2 linked regions of the Homo sapiens genome follow. The protein of the gene in region 1 purifies or fractionates together with the protein of each later gene. This does not show direct contact. Each region holds a gene or a part of one and is shown on either strand. Other genes may lie near its edges.

What was found.
Region 2: the proteins of FAM76A (region 1) and TOX4 purify together in Homo sapiens (affinity purification with mass spectrometry, with the first as the bait; one large-scale study listed by BioGRID). This does not show direct contact.

What each region holds. Positions count from the first base shown.
Region 1 is NC_000001.11:27,760,234-27,763,884, forward strand, and holds the end of FAM76A (protein FAM76A), read left to right. Parts: intron 1-261; coding exon 262-348; 3' UTR 349-2,883; downstream 2,884-3,651.
Region 2 is NC_000014.9:21,487,027-21,490,849, forward strand, and holds part of TOX4 (TOX high mobility group box family member 4), read left to right. Parts: intron 1-424; coding exon 425-667; intron 668-1,563; coding exon 1,564-1,824; intron 1,825-2,146; coding exon 2,147-2,377; intron 2,378-3,823. UniProt on the Homo sapiens protein: Transcription factor that modulates cell fate reprogramming from the somatic state to the pluripotent and neuronal fate. In liver, controls the expression of hormone-regulated gluconeogenic genes such as G6PC1 and PCK1.

The sequences.
Region 1 (3,651 bases):
CAGTTTGTATTGCATAAAGCATCCCTTTGTAACAGTGGGTCCCAAGAGATTGAGGTACACTGATTAACCTCTGGCAAATACTTTTTTCTCCTGAACCAAGTTTCAAGCCCTAGAGCTTCCTGTTGTTTTCCACCTCTAGAATTGTTCATCTCTTTCTGACCCTCCACATTGTCTGCCTTAGCATCTGCACTTACTCTGCATGAAAAATAGCTTATATCCTGTTTGAAACATCCTTCTTGCACTGATTTTTTTTTTCTTTAGGCCAAAAACCGAGAGCTCCTGAAGCAGGCAGCTGCTTTGTCCAAGAGCAAGAAGTCAGAGAAGTCAGGAGCTATAACCTCTCCATGACAGACCTCAAGGAGGCTCCCTAGCAACAGCAAATGGAGTTGTCCAGGGTTAGGGTTGGAGACCTGGCTGTTCTGTGGGAATTGCAAGCTTTCTTAAGAAATCTCTATTTTATTACAGTTATCCTTCTTTGTGCGATTGCAGTGGGCTGAATGGAAACACCTGGTTTGTGCTGTGTTAGACTGCATGCTTGAGTGTTTGGGATTTCAAGCTCGCTCTCTTTCTCTCACTATTAGGACTTTTCTTTTTCTTCTTCCTCTTCTCTCTATTTTGGTTCTATTCTTTTTTTTTCTTTTTTCTTTTTTTTTTTTTTTTTTTTTTTGTGGTGGTCACTGCTCAGTGTAATGTGCAGAATGATTTGTTTTTTGTTTTTTTTTTTTTTTTTGGTCCTTCATTGCATCCTGCCATACCCATGAGCAAACAGTTTGGCATTAATTATATATCACTGCCACCCTCTGAACTTTGAAAACTGCCATCTTCAGACTTGGTATAATGGAAGAGGCTTTCTCTCTCCAATAAACCTTTTGCTTCAGGGTATACTCTTCGGTTTTTTTCCAGATGTATTATGTATGAACTTTGTACTATGTATAGCCAGAGTTTTATTTATTTTTTAAAAAAGAAACTTTTTCTTGATAAAGGAATAATGGTGGTCTAGCTAGTTCTTGTAAAAGTGATGCCTCTTGAAAAAAAAACAGTCCTATTCACTAGCTTTTAGTAAAAGAATCAGATCTTTTCTTTCTTGTTACCTTGGAGTCTTAAAAACTGATTGCTAAGGTGAAACAATTCAATGCATAAGTATGGAGCTAAGTGCCTTTTGGAGGATTTCTTGGAAGAGCATTTATGGAGATACTTAAGGGAGGTAGCAAAGATTTGAACCGTCTGTCTTTTTAAGTAAGGGCAGAAAGCAAGGTTGTCCAGGTTGTACTGGACACTTCTCTCCCCACCCCTTTCCTGATTGTTTTATGTGATTGATTTTAAATTCTCACACTGCCACTTCTTTAAAAAATAAAATCCTTTATTTGCTTATATCAGTTGTCATACTGGGCTGCTGTCAGAGAATGTTTTTTTACATGAATGAACAGATTAAAAATGGAATAATATGGTCGGGTGCGGTGGCTCACGCCTGTAATACCAGCAATTTGGGAGGCCAAGGCGGGTGGATCATTTGAGGTTAGGAGTTTGAGACCATCCTGGCCAACATGGTAAAACCCCATCTGTACTAAAAAAATACAAAAATTAGCCGGGCCTGGTGGCATGCACCTGTAATCCCAGCTACCCAGGAGGCTGAGGCAGGAGAACTGCTCGAATCCCGGGAGGCAGAGGTTGCAATGAGCTGAAATCGCAACACTGCACTGCAGCCTGGGCAATGGAGTGAGACTCCGTCTCAAAAAAAAAAAAAAAAGGAATAATATTTGAACTACAGAGCATTTTTGGGGTCAGCATGAGCTGCTCTAGTAAGGACTCTTGAGTCTGGGAAAAGTGGTATCACTATACCTTCTCCCCACTCCTCACCCACCCGAGCCCATACACTCCCTGCTTTTCATGGATATGTATTGAAAACAGGTGCTTCTCAGAAGCACTTTGCCTCAACCAGAGTTATGTATGCCCTGCCTATCTTCCCTTCTTAACCCTGTAGGAATATGGATTTACTTTTCCAGGAAAGGGGATAGATTTACATTTCTAGGCATACTCTCAGGTCCTCTATGTGATGTTTGTGAAAGGAATTAGGGTGTGTCATGTGTGCCATGAAACAACAAAACCAACTACCCTAGAATCATTTATGCAGGGGGTACTAGAGTTAGAAATAATAATGAGGGCAGATAACATTTGTACCTCAGTCTACCAAAAAATTATAGTACTAAATTTAACTTCTAGGCGTTTCCTGGAAGCAGATGCTCTATAATTTGTGATAGCATTCTCATAAATGGAGTCCTACACATAATTGGACAGAGATGTGGAAATGGTGGTTTCCTTCTGATAAGGGATACAGTGGACCATGTCGCTTATATATCACCCTACTAGGGGATATAATTTTCCCTTCTAAGCAAGGGAAATGGCAGTGCTAAATAGTTTTGTAAAGTTTTTGAATGAGAAGCTTTTAGGTAAAGATAAACTGTCATAATATTTTTCAGATGCATTTGCATTGACTATGGGAGAAAAATTAGGGGGAAATGACAGTCATGGTGTTTTTTTTTAATTTTAAGGACTGAAATTCTGTTACATGATGTATGACAATATAAAAACATACTTAGTTTTATACTAAATCTTTTTTTAAGGTCTTGGCATTTAATATAAAGCAAATTCACACGTTTTCTAACTTTCCATAAGTTCCAAAAAGGGAAAGAAGAAACCTCAGTCTTGAAATTTTGATTTTTAAAAATCATGACACTGTTTTACCATGAAATTGAGTAGCTAACTTTTGGTAACACCTTTTGTTTCTTTGTATGTTTGTAATAATGGACATTTTAAAACACAGGAATGTTTTGGTTTGTACAGACTTTGACAAATGTGTGTTAATAAAAATTCATATTGACTCAAGTGTAATTGTTGGATTTTGTTTTTATTTCTTGCTGTTTACCAGTAGACATACCCCGTTATCCCCTTCAGCCCTTCAGCCTAGAAAAGTTTGTCTTGCTTATAGACTTAAAAAATTAAAAGCCTAACTGCTAATTGGGAATTTCCTGTCCATTAGAGAATAAACTCTTTCTTTCTCTCTTCTATGACTGTTTTGAGACAGAGTCTCACTCAGTCATCCAGGCTGGAGTACAGTGGCAAGTAGATCACTGCAGCCCCGACTTCCTGGGGATTCTCCCACCTCAGCCTCCCAAGTAGCTGGGACTACAGATGCACGCCACCATACCCAGCTAATTTTTGTATTTTTTGTGAAGATAGGGTTTTGCCATCCAGGCTGGTCTCCAACTCCTGGACTCAAGCCATCCACCCACCTCATCAGCCTCCCAAAGTGCTAGGATTACAGGCATGAGCTACCACACCCAGCCTCTTGGTGATTCTGTTTACCCAGTGTAAGTGCTCATGTTGTGATAGGCACTGTGCTAGGCAGCGCGGTTACAGCAGTGACAAAACCAAGTTATTGTACTTATGGGGCTTCCATTTAGTGGAATATTGGACACCACCACACCACCATTGTTCCTTGATTTAAAAAAAACTTTTTTTTTTTTTAATGGAGTCATGCTCTGTCACCCAGGCTGGAGTGCAGTGGCATGATCTCGGCTCACTGCAACCTCTGCCTTCTGGGATCAAGTGATTCTCCAGCCTCAGCCTCCCAAGTAGCTGGAACTACAGGTG
Region 2 (3,823 bases), on another chromosome or scaffold:
TCTGTGACCTAACAGTTTAGATGTAATAATTGTGAAATAACTGCTCTATTAGAATCTTTAGAGAGAGATTTCAAGAATCATAGTAAACAGGTTATAAAGGCTATGTCCTAAGTAATGGTACTGAAAGAATTTTTCATTAGAACCATAGGCATAATTTAAGACAAAAGAGACGGTAATGGTAGAAAAGAGATAAAAGAATTGAAAATTGTGACTGATGTTAGCAGCCTTGAATGTACCAAATGACCAAGGGTATCAGAAGAGAGATTGGTAAAAATAATAGGTTCTAAGAAATTGATTATAAAATAGGATCCTAAGCAGAAAAAATGCATCCTGAGAATCTCTAGTACCCCATTATGTTCTTCACTTAGTAGTATGCCATTTCTCCTCTTTTCACTAATTCTTTTCCCCCTTTTTTCCCCTACAGACATTCCATACACCAAGCTTGGGTGATGAGGAATTTGAAATCCCACCTATCTCCTTGGATTCTGATCCCTCATTGGCTGTCTCAGATGTGGTTGGCCACTTTGATGACCTGGCAGACCCTTCCTCTTCACAGGATGGCAGTTTTTCAGCCCAGTATGGGGTCCAGACATTGGACATGCCTGTGGGCATGACCCATGGCTTGATGGAGCAGGGCGGGGGGCTCCTGAGTGGGGGCTTGACCATGGTAAGGGGCAAGACATTGTCAGGCTTACCCCAGCTAATGGGCATGGCATTAGGGGAGACAAAGTTACTCTATTCCCTGCTACACTTGGGTATTACTTGTTTCTCTTCTTGTGGCTAAAGGCTCACCAACAAAGACTTAATTTCACCTGAATAAATGAAATTTACCATGTAGGTAGATTTTACTTGAAAAATAATTTAAAATTGTACAATGTCTGGTTTGAAAATTATTTATTGTGGTTTTTGGGAAAAAGTGTTTTCTGCTTTTATTATGGCCTTCACATCCTAGGATTCAAATTTGAATGTGATAGCTGGCACACGGAGGGATTTATTCAAAAATGGCCTGAATCACGTTGAGCAGCCAGCAGAACAGAGCTTAAAAAAAAAAAAAAAGTCTGAGCCAAATATAGTATTGTGGATTAGTATGTAATATAAATCAGTATATTGGGCTTCCAGCACATCGAACCAGTAAGCACATCTTCATACTCTATATTTGATGCCAGACTTTAATATTGGCCTTATTTATGCTGATTGCCTATGTATTACAATTTTAAAAGCTATTATTTTGGGAGAGTACAGATAGGAAGTTTTTCTTTACTCAATGTGTTGTCACTACCTATATATTACTGAATAAGTTGATAGCTCTTTGACTTGTCCAACAGTGCGACTTCTCTGATTATTTTTAGTTCTTCTTTTGAGTGCAAAGAAGTAAATTCATTAATTTCTGTACTTTTTTAAAAAGCTTATTTTTTTATTTTCATTTTTGAAGACTATTTTATGTTTTGTATTTTAAATGATACAATTTGGGTAGGCAGGGAATTTATAAGCTGTCTTAAATTTAGGGGGGAAAAGTGGTTTTTTTTATATTTAGTGTTTAATTAGTCCTTCTGCTTCTCTCAGGACTTGGACCACTCTATAGGAACTCAGTATAGTGCCAACCCACCTGTTACAATTGATGTACCAATGACAGACATGACATCTGGCTTGATGGGGCATAGCCAGTTGACCACCATTGATCAGTCAGAACTGAGTTCCCAGCTGGGTTTGAGCCTAGGGGGTGGCACCATCCTGCCACCTGCCCAGTCACCTGAAGATCGTCTTTCAACCACCCCTTCACCTACTAGTTCACTTCACGAGGATGGTGTTGAGGATTTCCGGAGGGTGAGGCATTCCCTGTCAAAATCAATTCTGCTGTGATAGTCTGGGATAAAATTTTTGGGATACAGAGCCTAATCAGTATTCTTTACCCTTGCCGTGCCATCTCCTCTGCTGTTTTCTGGGTATGGGGTTCCACCTCCCAATTTCCAGTTTATAATTCTCCTCTCAATCCCTATTCTTATTGGTTCTCCATATTTGACTAATGTCTTTTAATGCTATTTCTATGATTTTTAGCATTTCTGAAAATTCCATACATGTGGCTAGTTTCCAGACATAATACTTGTCATTGTCCATTGTGTAATTCTCTCTTTTTTCTCTCCTACAGCAACTTCCCAGCCAGAAGACAGTCGTGGTGGAAGCAGGGAAAAAGCAGAAGGCCCCAAAGAAGAGAAAAAAGAAAGATCCTAATGAACCTCAGAAACCAGTTTCAGCATATGCTTTATTCTTTCGTGATACACAGGCTGCCATCAAGGGACAGAATCCTAATGCCACTTTTGGTGAGGTTTCAAAAATTGTGGCCTCCATGTGGGATAGTCTTGGAGAGGAGCAAAAACAGGTGAGCAAATATTGAGGAACTAGTAGTGAATGTTCCAGAAGTTTTTAAAGAGATAAAAATTGAGGTTTTCTTTTTTCTTACATGTCCTTATCTAATATCAGCTGTTTGTTAATGACACTTAAATATCATCCCTTGTCTTCGAAGTTGCAGCCATACACTCACTCCAGAAAACCTATTTAAATTTTTTTTTTTTGAGACAGAGTCTCGCTCTGTCACCCAGGCTGGAGTGCAGTGCCGTGATCTCAGCTCACTGCAAGCTCCGCCTCCTGGGTTCACGCCATTCTCCTGCTTCAGCCTCCCGAGTAGCTGGGACTGCAGGCGCTTCCACCACACTGGGCTAATTTTGTTTTTGTATTTTTAGTAGAGACGGCGTTTCACCATGTCAGCCAGGATGGTCTCGATCTCCTGACCTCGTGATCCACCCGCCTCGGCCTCCCAAAGTGCTGGGATTACAGGCATGAGCCACTGCGCCCGGCCTATTTAAAAATTATTAATAGGCTGAGTGTGGTGGCTCATGCTTTTAATCCCAGCACTTTGGGAGGCCAGGGCAGGAGGATTGCTTGAGCCCATGAGTTCGAGACCATCCTGGGCAACATAGGGAGACCCCCGTCTCACAGAAAATTAGCTGGGTGTGGTGGCATGTGCCTTTGGTCCCAGCTGTGGAGGCTGAGGCGGGAGGATTGCTTGAGTTCAGGATATAAAGGCTGCAGTGAGCCATGTTTGTGTCACTGCACTCCAGCCTGGGTGACAGAGCAAGACCCCGGCTCAAATAAATAAATAATAATTGTTATAGGCCGGGCGCGGTGGCTCACGCCTGTTAATCCCAGCACTTTGGGAAGCCGAGGCAGGCGGATTACGAAGTCAGGAGATCAACACCATCCTGGCTGACATTGAAACCCCGACTCTACTAAAAATACAAAAAAATTAGCCGGGTGTGGTGGCATGCCTCAAATCCCAGCTACTCAGGCGGCTGAGGCAGGAGAATTGCTTGAACCCGGGAGGCAGAGGTTGCGGTGAGCCGAGATCATGCCATTGCACTCCAGCCTGGGCAACAAGAGTGAAACTCCATCTCAAAAAATAATAATAATTGTTACAGAAGTACTGCATCTTTACAATAACTCTCAAAAATAGCTACCATTTCCCGCTTTTAAGGTGGAAACTGGAGCCCACTGCCCAGTTAAGGTCATATAACATTTAAGTGGTAAAGTTGAGACACAATCCAGGTTCTTTAACTCTTCCCATGTACTTTCCACTAATAATGTCTCCTATAATTCCTCATGTAGTGTCCTTCTGTTCAATTTTTAGATATTTAACTTTTCTAAGTCTCATTTTTTCCCCCATTTATAAAATTAGGCTATTACTTGATAAGCTGCATGCTGTGGCTAACTCTCAAATCCACTACCAAGTTTGGATTTAGAATTACTTGTTTGTTTGTTTTTGAGATGG